Linked DNA regions of Homo sapiens. The protein of the gene in region 1 interacts with the protein of each later gene in a pairwise test. Each region holds a gene or a part of one and is shown in the gene's direction. Other genes may lie near its edges.

Evidence for each region.
Region 2: the proteins of PHF24 (region 1) and ZNF552 interact in binary tests that used the Homo sapiens proteins (3 or more experiments, as listed by UniProt).

What each region holds. Positions count from the first base shown.
Region 1 is NC_000009.12:34,967,435-34,976,214, forward strand, and holds part of PHF24 (PHD finger protein 24), read left to right. Parts: intron 1-3,860; coding exon of another isoform or gene 3,861-3,864; coding exon 3,865-4,242; intron 4,243-4,911; coding exon 4,912-5,097; intron 5,098-8,717; coding exon 8,718-8,780.
Region 2 is NC_000019.10:57,805,373-57,812,484, reverse strand, and holds the end of ZNF552 (zinc finger protein 552), read left to right. Parts: intron 1-3,381; coding exon 3,382-4,445; 3' UTR 4,446-5,403; downstream 5,404-7,112. UniProt on the Homo sapiens protein: May be involved in transcriptional regulation.

The sequences.
Region 1 (8,780 bases):
CAGGGTTATCACAAAAAATATATTTCTTACTCTGAGCCACAGTTGAAAGTTTTGAGAAACATGCCTTGGGGTTTCTGAGGAAAACCTAGTGGTCTGGAAAATGTAATTGCTCATAATAAAAATATGCTCAAATAAAAATATGAAGAATTATCTGTCAGTTTTGTATTTTCTCTCTTGGGGTACCTCTGTCACTGTAAGTTGGGGAGTTGCATCCCACCCAGCCATCGAACACGCTGTTGCCCATGAGGCATTTGAGCAGCATCTGGGGACTACAGGGCCAGCCCTGTCACTTCAAGAACCCACTGGGTCCAAAGCCTCAGCAAAAAATTTAACATATACATACTCTTCTCTCCATCCCCACCCCACCCTGGCTAGATTCCCTCATTAGATCATATGAACTTTTAAAAGAAGATGAAAAACAACATGAGCATTCTAAATGCTTCAGACTATATGTTCCAAATACACTCATTAACAGACAGAGAACTAAAGCCCAAAGCAACCAGCAACAGGTTCTGAATCATAGAACAGGGGACCCAAAACAAAAACAAGTCATCAAGTTGCCAACCCTAGGATTTGTTTTATTATCTAATTAATGTGCAATGTGGGAGAATTGGAAAATATAGATTACAAAAAGATTAAAAGTACATACAGTACAAAAATTAGATCATAACATGAGCATTTTTGTAACTTGCTATTTTTGTTAATATGTTTGCATATTTTGAGTATCTTTCCCACCAATAAATATACTTCTACCTCAGTGTTTTCCGTGTTGTTTAGTCTTTCGTGGTACGTAATTTATTTCCCTATTGCTTAATATTTGTTTCCAGCTAATGAAAAAAAGATTTCTTAATCACAATTTTTTATGAATTTATTTGGGGATTAAGATATTTTCATTTTAATTACAATTTATTCTTAGTTGTCCACTGAGGCATGAATACCCTAAATGATTTCCTGAATGTGCTCAATAAATCTTTCTTCAATAAATCTCCTGTGCCACTGCCCTTTAAGGCAGTATTAAGTATTTAAAGTCAATGTTCCTTCGTCACATACTTCAGTTTTACAAACAAATTTATAAATGGAGTCGGGGAGGTGGTTCTTTCCTTTCCTATCAATCAGTTTATAAATTCAAGAATATGAATTTCCTTGGTAGTAGTAGTGGCAAGGCAAGCACGTGAGCAGTGTAGGAGTTCGCACCACTGTGGCACATACAAGCAGTGTTTCCGAAAAGAAGATGGGGCTGTCATCAGATAGTACATGTATTAAGGTTTCATTTTTAAAAGTAAAAGGAATTCTCCACAATTAATTAGCTAATTGGAAAATGTTTATTAAGAATCTATTCTGTTAGATGCTTAATAGACAGACACATTGCTAGGCAGTGGAGATAAGTACTGTGTGGGATAAAACAGTCTAATAGGGGAAACTGACATTGATCAGTAATCATCCTATTGAATATGTAATGATGAAGGTAAGTGCCCAGAGCAGAAGGGCATGGTGCTGTGAGCACTCCGACCTGGACTGGAGTCAGCAGTGACTTCCCCAAGGAAATGAGACTTGAGCCTTAGCTCTGATAGACAAATAGGCACTAGTCAGGTGGGGAGGAATGTTCAAACTTCCCCAAAACAGAGGGAGTATAGCAAATAAAGACTGAAATAAGGCCATTATGGTTGGGACACAGAGTAAAGAAGGGAGGCCAGACCATGCAGGGCCTCACAGGCCACAGTAAAGAGACTGATTGTGGGGACTTCCTCCTGAAAGCTGAAGGAAGCACTGAAAGTTTTAATCAGGGGATAACTCGACACCTGAATGTCCCAGGGACATCTTTAATTCAACATATACAAAATCCAATTTAATTATCCCTCTTATTTCCAATTTCTGTAAGTGGCACTACCATTCTTCTAGTTAGTCCATTTAAAACTGCCCTCTTTCGCCAGGCACGGTGGCTCACGCCTGTAATCCCAGCACTTTAGGAGGCCGAGGTGGGCGGATCATGAGGTCAGGAGATCGAGACCATCCTGGCTAACACGGTGAAACCCCGTCTCTACTAAAAATACAAAAAATTAGCCGGGCATGGTGGCATGTGCCTGTAGTCCCAGCTACTTAGGAGGCTGAGGCAGGTGAATCACTTGAACTCAGGAGGCAGAGGTTGCAGTGAGCCAAGATCGTGCCACTGCACTCCAGCCTGGGCGACAGAGCGAGACTCTGTCTCAAAAAAAAAAAACCAAAAAAACAAAAAACTGCCCTCTTTCCCTTTATCCTTCATCCAATCAATTATCAATTTATTCCTAGATTTCCCTAATTCTATTTCCATGGTAACAGATACACTCAGTCAGTATTATTCCTGCTATCATCATTTCCATTTAAACCCTCTACCTCTTGTCTGGACTATGATATTAACAGTAACCTTCGAACTGGCCTTACTTCTCCTCCTACCCGCTGTCACCTTTTCCCCCAAACAAACTGAGCATAACCGCCTGTGCATCCTTCAAGGTCCACTTTGACCACCAGTAGTGTGGTGGGTCTCGCCTTCCTTTAGGTACTCTCAGCACTTTGACTTCTTTGGTTTCTAATATTAAGTAGCTTGAGTGGTGAGACTGTTCTCCTGTCTTCTGTTTCCTATGATGAGCAGTTAGTGCCTTGCACATAATACTGTTCAATAAGCCTTGATTAGAATGGATTGAGAGCAAGGCTAAAATGGACTCTGCTCCACTTTACTTAGAAAAAGAATTCCCCAGCTGACTTCCACTAAGTCTCCTCAGGCTAGGAAATAGCAGACCAGCTTTGCAATGTGCCCTGTCATGCCCTCACTGTCCAATGCTGTGCTCTGGTACCACAGAGAAGAGCAGGTCTGATGTTACTTTTTAACCTGTAAAGGATATGGACCTTTCTTGAACAGTTCAGAAGAATTAAAGCAGAAAATGTGGGAGTGACAGCGCAGCCTTAGAAGTGTGAGAGGTACCTTAGAGCTTTGTAATAGGCCAGTGTCTGTAATAGATAAGCAGACCCACAGAGAGGCACAGCTACTAATGAGAGGGGGCAAAGGAGTGTTTGTGTGACCTTGACCACATGGATACGGGTGGCAGAGTTTCCTTACTGACTAATTCAGGAGTCCTCTAAAACTAGGAGTTCATTGACTTAAAAAGTAGGCATTTGATGAGGATTAGCCCCAGATGGATTGTTCATGGCACCTACTGAAGGAGCTTTTCTTGTCTCAAAAGGCCTGAACTGTGTTGCTGCCAGCTTGCTTTAAGCCTTGAGTCTTCTTGCAGGGTAGAGGAGAAATTTGGATTCTGAAGTCTCCAACCATTTCGAAGTAGCAGAGGTGTAGGACCCCTGGACTAAATTGGTTTTAGGACAGGAAGGGAGACAGAGATATCATTTCATGCACGTAGAGTGCTTTCCAGTCTACGAAGCACCATTATGCCCATTTTCTTACATTATCCTTGTAACATCCCTGTGAAGTGGGCTGGGGAAATAGCCCTCATTCCATAGATGGGAAAACCAAAGTTGCAAGGCCTGTCAGAAATCGAACCAAAGTCATCCAGGCAAGGTGGTAGGCCTGTGATCCCAGCTACTTAGGAGGCTGAACCAAGGGAATCACTAAAGCCCAGGAGTTCAAGAAGAGCCTGGGCAACATAGTAAGACCTCATCTCTAATAAATAAATTAAATAAATAAATAAATAAAATTTAGGAAAGAAGTAGAACCAACATCTTCTGATCCTTAACATGTGCTGTCTCCACCCCCACCATGTTCTAGAAGAGGGAGAAACTGTTTAATAGCCCTTGCCACTTAGGTTGAAACTGATTAGCCTGACATCCTCAGCCATTGGCTGAACCTGTGCCCCTCTGCTTTTTGTCCACAGAGCCATGGGGGTGTTGATGTCCAAGCGGCAGACAGTGGAGCAGGTGCAGAAGGTGAGTCTGGCTGTGTCTGCTTTCAAGGATGGGCTGCGGGACAGGCCTTCCATCCGACGCACAGGTGAGCTGCCAGGGTCCCGCCGTGGCACTGTAGAGGGCTCCGTCCAGGAGGTACAGGAGGAGAAGGAAGCAGAAGCAGGAACCTCGGTGGTCCAGGAAGAGAGTAGTGCCGGCCGCGCAGCCTGGGAGCGGCTCCGAGATGGGCGCGGCGTGGAGCCTGAGGAGTTTGACAGGACAAGTCGATTCACACCCCCTGCGTTCATCCGCCCCACCCGGAAGCTGGATGATGACAAACCTCCAGAAATCTGCCTGGAGCCCAGAGAGCCTGTGAGTATCCAGTTAGGACAGGATCCTCAAGTCTTAGTGCATCAGGGAGCAGGACAGGGAAGATGGATGTGGGTAAGGTGATCCTCAAAACCGGAAAAATGGAGCTGAGTCCAAAAAAATCTTTGAATTTCTTCTGTAAGAATAAAATGTTTGTTATATCCTGGATTCATCTTAGTGAAAGGCTTGGGGCAATGGATGATAAAGAATGATGCTGTGGCAGGTCTTCTGTCGAACCTCCCCCTCTTCCCCGCTGCCATGGGTTTTCAACCATGGATAGTACTACACCCTGCGGGAGGCAATTGGAAATTTGGGAGGGAGGAGTTTGGGGAGGTCACAACACCAGGTGGCTACTGGTGTTTGGTACCAAGAAAAGCAGGGATGATAAATGTCCTGCAATGCCTGGAACAATCTCTCACAACAGATTGTTCTTTCTAAAAGTGCTAGTAGCTCCCTGTTCATAAACATGGTCACAAAGACATGAGCAGCTGGAAGGACCTCCTGGTTCTTGTCGTCCAGAAAGAAAACCTCAACAATGGCTTCAGTTGGGGCTGTTCCTCTAGGCTAATCTGGGAAGACTCAGCCCCATGCAGGTAGCTCTGTGCTTAGTGGCCTTGGAATCTTGCTGCCTACATTTACACATCCCTGTTTCCTCCTGCCATCTTTCTGCAGGTTGTCAACGATGAGATGTGTGATGTTTGTGAGGTCTGGACAGCTGAGAGCCTCTTCCCGTGCAGGGTCTGCACCAGGGTTTTCCATGATGGCTGCCTGCGCCGCATGGGCTACATCCAAGGAGACAGTGCAGCGGAGGTGACGGAGATGGCCCACACAGAAACAGGCTGGAGCTGCCACTACTGTGTAAGTCTGGACTGCAGGGACAGCAGAGGACTTGGCACTTTTCCTGGAGGCCCGGTCTTAGAACACTTGATTTTAGGCAGTGACCTAAAGAATTTTCCAATGGGCTGGGCGCGGTGGCTCATGCCTGTAATCCCAGCACTTTGGGAGGCCAGTGCCGGAAGATCACGAGGTCAAGAGATTGAGACCATCCTGGCCAACATGGTGAAACCCCATCTCTACTAAAAATACAAAAATTAGCTGGGCGTGGTGGCACGCGCCTGTAGTCCCAGCTACTCGGGAGGCTGAGGTAGGAGAATCACTTAAACCCAGGAGGCGGAGGTTGCAGCGAGCCGAAATCGCGCCACTGCACTCCAGCCTGGCGACAGAGCGAGACTCTGTCTCGAAAAAAAAAAAAAAAAAAAGATTTTTCCAATGGTACATACAAGAGACCTAGAGCTAGGATGGGGTTTCTCAACCTCAGTACATTTTAGGCTGGCTAGTTACTTGTTTGAGGGGCCAAGTGCATTGTAGGATGTTTAGCGGCACCCTGGCCTTAATCCCCTAGATGCCGGTAGCATACATCTCAATGTGAAGGTAGCAAAATCACCCCCGGTAGAGAACCTCTGAGCTAGGAGATTGACTGGGGCCTAATTACTCAAAAGTAATTCTGCTTGGAGCAGTTCTTTCTCTAATAGTCTATAGTTGTCATTCATTGTATCCATATGAAAACTAACCTGAGATCCTAACCAGCTTGCTTCCAGTAGGGGTAGATTCTATCACAGGAAAACTTCCTAGGCCTGAGATCCTCACTCAGCCTGCCACCTGACTCATAAGCATTTGCTCTTCCTCTTTGAAGTGGTTATTATGTGAATTAAATGACAAAGCTCTATTGATTCAGAACTTCGCAAATTATATATAAATGCCTTCTAACTTTTAATGAAGGACAGAGTCTAAGGTTTCCATTGAAAGCCAGATTTATATCCATTTCTCACTACACCTGAATAGAGTTCAAGTCTTGCCTTATTGATCTGTTGTCCTGCAGATATCGTCATTGTTTATTGATTTCAGAGTGAGGAGCACCTGCTGATCCCCCCTTCTTCCTGCTGCTTAGACGAAAGCAGAGATGTGCCACTTTCTAACAAATAACTCTTCCTCTATGGCTTGTTATGGAACAGCTATTTTCAGCCACTGAAACACCTGTCCCCATGGAGTACACTGCAGCAGACCCTGCTGTACCGGCGACCTTCTCTAGTGCCTGTCACCCCTTCCAAATGCCATCCTTTCATCTCGGCCACTCTGCTTTGCGGTGTGCTGCTGCTATAGGACTGGGGTGAAGGGGTCACCTCCCTAACCCCCAGGAACACACTGCTCCCTCCCCAGCTTCCTGACACAGTCCTACCATCATTGCCACCATGCTCCACTGGGCTTTTTACAGAGCCTCCTTCCAAGTACCTCTCCTTTCTTTCCTTCCCTTCACAGCCAACAAATCTTCTTCTTCTTTTTTTTCTTTTTATGAGACAGGGTCTCACTGTGTCACCTGGCTGAAGTGCAGTGGTGCGATCGTAGCACTGCAGCCTTGAACTCCTAGACCTAAGCAATCCTCCTGCCTCAGCTTCCTCAGTAGCTGGGACTACAGGCACAAGCCATTGCACCTGGCCCCACAGCCAAACTTCTTAAAAGAATTTCACCATCTCCTATGGTTTTTCAACCACCTATCATATAATCTGACATCTGCATCCATCATTCTGCAGAACTGTTGCTTCCTAAGGTCACCAGTCACCTCCTAATTGTCAAGTCCACTGACCTTTTCTGAGGCATCTTCTTACTTGATCTCTCTGAAGTATTTATTACTTCTTTATTCCTCTCTCTTTTCTTTAGGATTTAAGTATTTTTATGAGAATTATTGCATAAGATATGGAAATGAGAGAAAATAGAAAGTCAATAAAATCCCACCTCAGTGGTGTAACCACCGTTAACATTACCTCCCACATTCTGCAGCTGTCTTTGCTTGGTATCCAGTACCTTCTTCTCTACTGATGCTCTTCCAGCCTTAGTCTCTGACCATTCTTTCTCAATGCCCTTTGTTAGTTTCTTGTCTCAGTCCTGTTTCTCAGGGTTCTGTTGTTTAATACTCTTCTTTTCTCACTGCGCCCTCTTTGGTGACTTCATCTACAGCCACCATCTAAACACTAATGACTCCTATTTCTGTGTGTCCAGACCTAAATTTCCTGTCTCTTGCACTTATCCACCTTGATATCTCACAAGTACTTCACACTCATCATGCCCCAAAATGAACTCATCTTTGCCCCCAAACCTGCTCTTCCTCCACTCCTTATCTCTGTGAATAGTAATACCATGCCCCAGTTACCAATTCCAGTTCAATCTCTCCCTCATGCCTCACATCCAGTGAGTCATCAGGTCCTGATGATGCTGCCTCTAATATCTCTCTTCCCTTCTTCATTCTCATGTCTCAGTTTAGCTGCTCATCATTTCTTGCCTGGACTGTTGCGGCAGCCCCCAACTGCTCTCCACACCTCCAGACTCTGCCGCTCTAATCCATCTTCCACACAGCAGCCAGAGATCTGACCACGGCACTCCCCACTTGAAAACCCTTTGGTGGCTCCCTTTTGCCCTCAGAATAAAGGCCTAATTTGAGGGGCTCGATAAAGGGTATTGGAGGTACTTCATAGTAGGCCCCCTCCTTCCCTCACACACACACTCACATGTACTCCAAACCTCAGCCACACTGAACATCTCACAGTGTTACACACCACTGTGGCGCCCAGTGTTTACTAGGTGCTCAGTAGGTGTTTATTGAAAGTATGGTTTGAAAGAAAAATACAACTATTATATATTAGTTTTTAAAAAGTGTTATGGAAGAAAAAGAATGGTTTGAGTTCTTTATGAAATCCACGTATGAATACTCATGAAATATCTGCTCTTGTACTTTGCGGGTATCTCAGAGGAAGAAAATGACCTTGTACTAGAAAGGATCTTTGATAGTTTAAAGACTGTATGGTAACGTCAACACAATAAGATATTGGTGCTCCTTTGGAATTAAAACTTCTGTGGCACTACAAAAAAACTCATTTGGCTTTAGGAGCCTTGTAATAATGGCATCTTTTAAAACCATTCTGGGGTTATTTAAAGTGATACAACCCACTTGGAGCAGAGCTAGGATTAAACTTTTTTTTTTTTTAACTAAAATACATTTTTAGCACAGCCTAACACAGAAGCCAAGTAGATAAAAGGGATGGAGATGGAGCCGCTCTGCTTGATGGAGATAGGGATTCACAACCTGCCTACTCACTAGCCCCCTTATTCCCTGCAGCAGCTTCCTAAGGCACTTCCAAGAAATCCCTAGGTTAGCTCAGAGGAGAAAACCACTGTTTTAGTAAAGGGACTCAGTGCTGGAGTCAGGATATCTGGGTTCTTGGGGAAGATTCTGCCCCAGAGTAAAGACAACTCTGGCCAAGTCCTTTCTCCTCTCTGGGGCCTCAATCTCATTGATTGTGAATAGGAGGCTGGGATTAGATGATCTTGGAACTGCTTTCCAGTTGAAATTCTATTTCTAGCCCCCTTGACCCTGGCCTTTCTTACTGGCCTGTATGGCCACCGACTCAGCTCTTCCTTATTTTCAGGACAACATCAACTTGCTGCTTACTGAGGAGGAAATGTATAGCCTCACGGAGACCTTTCAGCGG
Region 2 (7,112 bases), on another chromosome or scaffold:
GTTCTTACATCATGTATGTCTCATGTACTTGGTTATCTTGGTGGTGGGATCATCTTCTGTGGTCAGAAGATGCAAATGAATCTGGCCTCAGCATTATGGGTTCTGAGTCCCTGAAAAATAGCATCCTAGGACAGTGGTGCATGATGTCAAGAGTTTTATTCAAATCATGACAGAAACCTCTTCTATTTCAGTAGTATTTTTGGGGCCAGACAAGTAAGCACACATGATTTCTGTATCGTCTTTTCTCCTTCATTCTTGTTTTTGGTTTTGTTTGTTTGTTTTTTGAGAAAGGGTCTTGTTCTGTTGCCCAGGCTGGAGTGCAGTAGCTTGATCTCTGCTCACTGCAACCTCTGCCTCCTGGGCTGAAGCACTTCTCCTGCTTCAGCCTCCTGAGAAGCTGGGAATACAGGTGCATGCCATTATGCCCAGCTAATTTTTTTTTTTTTTTTTTTTTTTGAGACAGAGTCTCACTTTGTTGCCCAGGCTGGAGTGTAGTGGTGCGATCTTGGCTCACTGCAACCTCCACCTCCCAGGTTCAAGCAATTCTTCTGCCTCAGCCTCCCAAGTAGCTGGGACTACAGGCGTGCACCACCACGCCTGGCTATGTTTTGTATTTTTAGTAGAGATGGGGTTTCACCATATTGGCCAGGCTGGTCTCAAACTCCTGACTTCATGATCCGCCTGCCTTTGCCTCCCACAGTGCTGGGATTACAGGCATGATCCACTGCACCTGGCCTTCTCCATTGTTTTTTTTTTTTTTTTTTTTTTTGAGATGGAGTTTCGCTCTTGTTGTCCAGGCTGGAGCGCAATGGTGCGATCTGGCTCACCGCAACCTCTGTCTCCCAGGCCCAAGCAATTCTGCCCTCAGCCTCCTGAGTAGCTGGGATTACAGGCATGTGCCACCATGCCCGGCTAATGAAGGGTGGCCTGCCTCTCCACACCTGTGGGTGTTTCTCGTCAGGTGGAATGAGAGACTTGAGAAAAGAAAGAGACACAGATCCAAAATATAGAGAAAGAAAAGTGGGCTGGGTGCGGTGGCTCATGCTTGTAATCCCAGAACTTTGGGAGGCCGAGGCAGGCGGATCACGAGGTCAGGAGATTGAGACCACGGTGAAACCCTGTCTCTACTAAAAATACAAAAAAATTAGCCAGGCGTGGTGGCGGGCGCCTGTAGTCCCAGCTACTCGGAGAGGCTGAGGCAGGAGAATGGCGTGAACCCGGCAGGCGGAGCTTGCAGTGAGCCGCGATTGTGCCACCGCACTCCAGCCTGAGCAACAGAGCGAGACTCCGTCTCAATAAAGAATAAAAAATAAAAAAAAAAAAGAAAAGTGGGCCCAGGGGACTGGCGCTCAGCATACGGAGGAACCCTGCCTTCCCCCTGCCGCCACCAGTCTCCGAGTTCCTTCAGTATTTACTGATCATTATCTCTACCATGTGGCAGGTCAATAGGGTAATAGTGGGGAGAGGTTCAGCAGGAAAACATGTGAACAAATGTCTCTGCATCATAAACAAGGTAAAGAAAAAAGTGCTGTGCTTTTGATGTGCATATACATAAACATCTCAATGCCTTAAAGAGCAGTATTGCCTCCAGCATGTCTCACCTCCAGCCCTAAGGCGGTTTTCTCCTATCTCAGTATATGGAATATACAATTGGGTTTTAACACCCAGACATTCCATTGCCCAGGGATGAGCGGGAGACAGATGCCCTCCTCTTATCTCAACTGCAAAGAGGCCTTCCTCTTTTACTAATCCTCAGCACAGCCCCTTTACTGGCGTCGGGCTGTCAGGTCTTTCCCTTCCCATGAGGCCATATCTCAGGCTATCACATGGGGAGAAACCTTGGGCAATACCTGGCTTTCCTAGGCAGTGTTTTGTGTCCCTGGGTCCTTGAGAGTAGGGAGTAGTGATGACTTTTAACAAGCATGCTGCCTTGAAGCACTTGTTTAACAAAGCACGTCCTGCATAGCCCAAAATCCATTTAACCTTGAGTTGACACAGCACATGTTTCTGGAGCACAGGGTTGGGAGTAGGGTTACAGATTAACAGCATCTCAAGGCAGAATAATTTTTCTTAGTACTGAACAAAATGGAGTCTCTTATGTCTGCTTCTTTCTACATCGACACAGTAACAGTCTGATCTCTCTTTCTTTTCCCCAAAGGCTAATATTTTGTATTTTTAGTAGAGACAGTGTTTCTCCATGTTGGTCAGGCTGGTCTCAAACTCCTGACGTCAGGTGATCCGCCCAGCTCTGCCTCCCAAAGTGCTGGGATTACAGGCATGACCCACGACACCTGGCCCTTTTCTTCTCTCTTCTCTTTCCTCTTCCCTCTTCTCCCTTTCCCTCCCCTCTCCTCTCCTCTTCTCTTTTCTTTTTTGAGACAGGTTCTCACACTGTCATTTTTGTTACCTGGAGTGCAGTGGTGTGAATATAGTTCACACAGCCTCAACCTCCTGGGCTCAAGTGATCCTCCAGCCTCAGTCTCCTGAGTAGCTAGGACTGCAGGTGCACACCATCACACCTGGCTAATGTTTGTAGAGAGGTTTTGCTGTGTTGCTCAGGCTGGTCTTGATCTCCTGGGCCTGAGTGATCCCTTTGCCTTAGCCTCCCAAAGTGCTGGGATTGTAGGCATGAGTCACCATGCTTGGCCATTTTAAAAATAATTTCTGTAGAGACAGGGTCTCACCATGTTTCCCAGGCTGGTCTTGGATTTCTGGGCTCAGGTGATCTTCCTACATTGGGTTTACAGCTGTGAGCCACTGGTACTGGCCTCTTCCCCATTGTTAAGAACCTCAGAATTGTCAGTTGTACTCCTTGTCAGTTGTACTTTTTTTTTTTTTAAATCCTTTAACTGATTTGTACATGAGCTTGTAGTCTGATATTTATTCCCCTGAATAATCTTCACATCTCTGGACCTCACATCTTAATTTTATTCACATCTTCATCTGCAGTGGTTTCCAGTATTAGCATACAGGTTTTGTGTTAGCAAATGTGTACACTTTGTTAAACTGTCCTCAAGCAGAAGCTGCTGTGTTGTGCTTGTGTTTTCCTTGGCCTGGACAAATCCCTCTCTACAGCACTCGCATGTCATGAGGACATAAATTCTGCAGATGAGTGGTTTGCAGATGCAGGGATTGTAGACCCTGCCTCTACTCCCTGTGTTACATACATGGTTGTGTCCTTTATGTTATGAGGCCTCCTACATTCTGTGACCATTATAGTCCAGTAATAATACATAGCACCATCTTCCACCTGAAGCCAACATCCTGTTCCTCCAAGTACTTCCTTGGAGTAATTCCTCAGTTTTTCAGATACACTTGTGGGTGGTCTGTGCCTTCCCACCAGAGTTAACATGCACTTCACCAGCATTTTCTTGCTTTCAGGTTGTTGGTGTGGAGTGGAAGATGAGGCGGCACCTTCTAAGCAGAGTATTTATATACAAAGAGAGACTCAGGTCAGGACTCCTATGGCAGGTGTGTCTCCCAAGAAGGCCCACCCCTGTGAGATGTGTGGCCCGATCTTGGGAGACATTTTGCATGTGGCAGATCATCAGGGAACACATCACAAGCAGAAACTGCACAGGTGTGAGGCCTGGGGGAATAAATTGTATGACAGTGGAAACTTTCATCAGCACCAGAATGAGCACATTGGAGAGAAACCCTACAGAGGGAGTGTTGAGGAGGCGTTGTTTGCGAAGAGGTGTAAGTTGCATGTGTCAGGGGAGTCATCTGTCTTCAGTGAGAGTGGGAAAGACTTTTTGCTCAGGTCAGGATTACTCCAGCAAGAGGCCACTCACACTGGGAAGTCAAACAGCAAAACTGAGTGTGTGTCTCTGTTTCATGGGGGAAAAAGCCATTACAGCTGTGGAGGATGCATGAAACATTTTAGCACCAAAGATATACTCAGTCAGCACGAGAGACTGCTCCCTACAGAAGAACCTTCTGTGTGGTGTGAATGTGGGAAATCCTCTAGCAAATATGACAGCTTCAGTAATCATCAAGGAGTTCACACTAGAGAAAAACCTTATACGTGTGGGATATGTGGGAAATTATTTAACAGTAAGTCCCACCTCCTTGTACACCAGAGAATTCACACTGGAGAGAAGCCATATGAGTGTGAGGTTTGTCAGAAATTTTTTAGGCACAAGTACCACCTCATTGCACACCAGAGAGTTCACACTGGAGAAAGGCCATATGAATGCAGTGATTGTGGGAAGTCATTTACCCACAGCTCTACATTCCGTGTTCATAAGAGAGTTCACACTGGTCAGAAGCCTTATGAGTGCAGTGAATGTGGGAAATCTTTTGCCGAAAGCTCCAGTCTCACTAAACACAGGAGAGTTCACACTGGAGAAAAGCCTTACGGGTGCAGTGAATGTGAAAAAAAATTTAGGCAAATCTCTTCACTTCGTCATCATCAGAGAGTTCACAAAAGAAAGGGCTTATGAGTGCAGTGAGTCCAGTCTCATTAAATATTGGAGAATACACACCTGAGTAAGATCCTGTGATTGCAGCAAATGTGGAAAATGTTTACCCAAAGGTCTGCTCTCCTTGGATATTGGAGAGTTCACACTAGAGAAGAGTCCTTACAAGTAAAATAAATTTGGGCAGTTTTGTAGCCACACCTCTGTATTCCTTCAGGATTATAGTTAACACTGAATGAAGGCCTTACTAGTGTGACAAATACAGGATATTTATCCAGAAGTCTGGCTGCATAACTCACAGGAGAGCTGTCATGTGGGAGGATTGCTACATGGGAGGATTTGCTTGAGCCTGGGAGGCAGAGGTTGCAGTGAGCCGAGATTGCAACACTGCAGTCCAGTCTGGACCACAGAGTGAGACCCTGTTTCAAAAATAAAATATATAAATGACATCCAATAAAGTATGCATATTTGAGCTGTAGGATAAGTCTTGAATTTTCTTTTTCTTTTTTTTGAGACAGCCTCGCTCTGTCACCCAGGCTGGAGTACAGTGGCATAATCTCGGCTCACTGCAAGCCCTGCCTCCTGGGTTCATGCCATTCTCCTGCCTCAGCCTCCCTAATAGCTGGGACTACAGGCAACCACCACCACTCCTACCTTTTTTGTATTTTTAGTAGAGATGGGGTTTCACCCTGTTAGCCAGGAAGTTCTCAATCTCCTGACCTCGTGATCTGCCCGCCTTGGCCTCTCAAAGTGTTGGGATTGCAGGCGTGAGCCACTGCTCCTGGCTTGAATTTTCTTATAATCCCATGAAACCATCATCAGAGTCACAATAATGAATTTATCTAATCTATCACCTTTGTATTCACCTGGAGCCTTTATAAAGTTTTTCTCTATGCAGACAACCATTGATTTACTCTGCTGTATAATACTTTCCATTTTCTAGAATTTTCTGACTGATGTAATAAAGTGTTTCCTCTTATAATCCCTGGGTGCTCTCCTGCATCATGCTTATTTTGATATCAATGTAGACATGAGTTAATTTGTTGTATATTGCTGAGAAGTATAGTCTGCCATGAAATGTCATTATATATTCATTCATCCGTTTATGGATATTTGAGTTGCTGCTTGTGTTTTTTTGTGTTTTTTTTTTTGAGGTGGAGTCTCACTCTGTCCCCCAGGCTGGAGTGCAGTGGGGCAATCTCAGGTCACTGCAAGCTCTGCCTTCCGGGTTCACGCCATTGTCCTGCCTCAGCCAGTCCTGTGGACTACAGGCGCCCGCAAACACGCCTGGCTAATTTTTTGTATTTTTAGTAGAGACAGGGTTTCACTGTGTTAGCCAGGATCGTCTCGATCTCCTGACCTTGTGATCCGCCCATCTCGGCCTCCCATAGTGCTAGCATTACAGGCATGAGCCATCGCGTGCGGCTGCTTTTTTTTTTTTTTTAAAGACTGTCGACCAGGTTGGAGTGCAGTGGCGTGATTTTGGCTCATTGCAACCTCTACCTCCCAGGTTCAAGCGATTCTCCCACCTGAGCCTCCCACATAGCTGGGATTACATGCATGAGCCACCATGCTGGCTGTTTTTTGATTTTTAGAAGAGATGGGGTTTTGCCGTGTTACCAGGTTCATCTCAGACTCCTGGCCTCAAATGATCTGCCTGCCTTGGACTCCCAAAGTGCTGGGATTACAGGCCTGAGTCGTGAGCCACTGCGCCTGTAATTGATTCTGAGGCCAGGCGTGGTGGCTCACGCCTGTAATCCCAGCACTTTGGGAGGCCAAGGTGGGTGGATCACTTGAGGTCAGGAGTTTGAGACCAGCCTGGCCAACATAGTGAAACGCCATCTCTACTAAAAATACAAAAATTAGCCAGGCGTGGTGGCACATGCCTGTAATCCCAGCTACTCAGGAGGCTGAGGCAGGAGAATCACTTGAACCCAGGCAACAGAGGTTACAGTGAGCTGAGATCACACCACTGCACTCCAGCCTAGGCGACAGTTAGACGCTGTCTCAAAAAAAATAAAACAAAAACATTTATTCTGAGATAATGCCAGTACCCAGTGTGAAACTATTCCTGCAGTCACTGGAAAATAACCACTTTCTTGTAAGGAGATGAAATTTTGGAGCTCAGATGCCATGTTTATGCTGTTATTCAGATGCCTTTTTTATCTGTGCTGTAATTGTGAAAGTTGTAGCCACTGATGTGTACCACAAAGGCATTGGTTAAGTTGCTCTTCCTTTGAGATAGATGTCAATGTGAAAAAAGAAATTGAGGGCAGGGCGTGGTGGCTCACGCCTGTAAACCCAGCACTTTGGGAGGCCGAGGCAGGTGGATCACGACGTCGGGAGATCGAGATCATCCTGACTAACATGGTGAAACGCCTTCTATAGGGAAAATACAAAAAATTAGCCAGGCGTGGTGGTGGGTGCCTGTAGTTTCAGCTACTCCAGAGGCTGAGGCAGGAGAATGGCGTGAACCCAGGAGGCAGAGCTTGCATTGAGCGGCAATTGGCGATCGCACCACTGCACTCCAGCCTGGGCGACAGAGCGAGACTCCGTCTCAAAAAAAAAAAAAAATTGAGTGCACTTTAGCATATGAATTAAGAAACATTGATATAGTGATCCTCATAGTAACTAAAAAGTAAAGTAGAGGTTCCTTTTCAAAGACTTTCCTCCCTAATTAGGAATAAATGG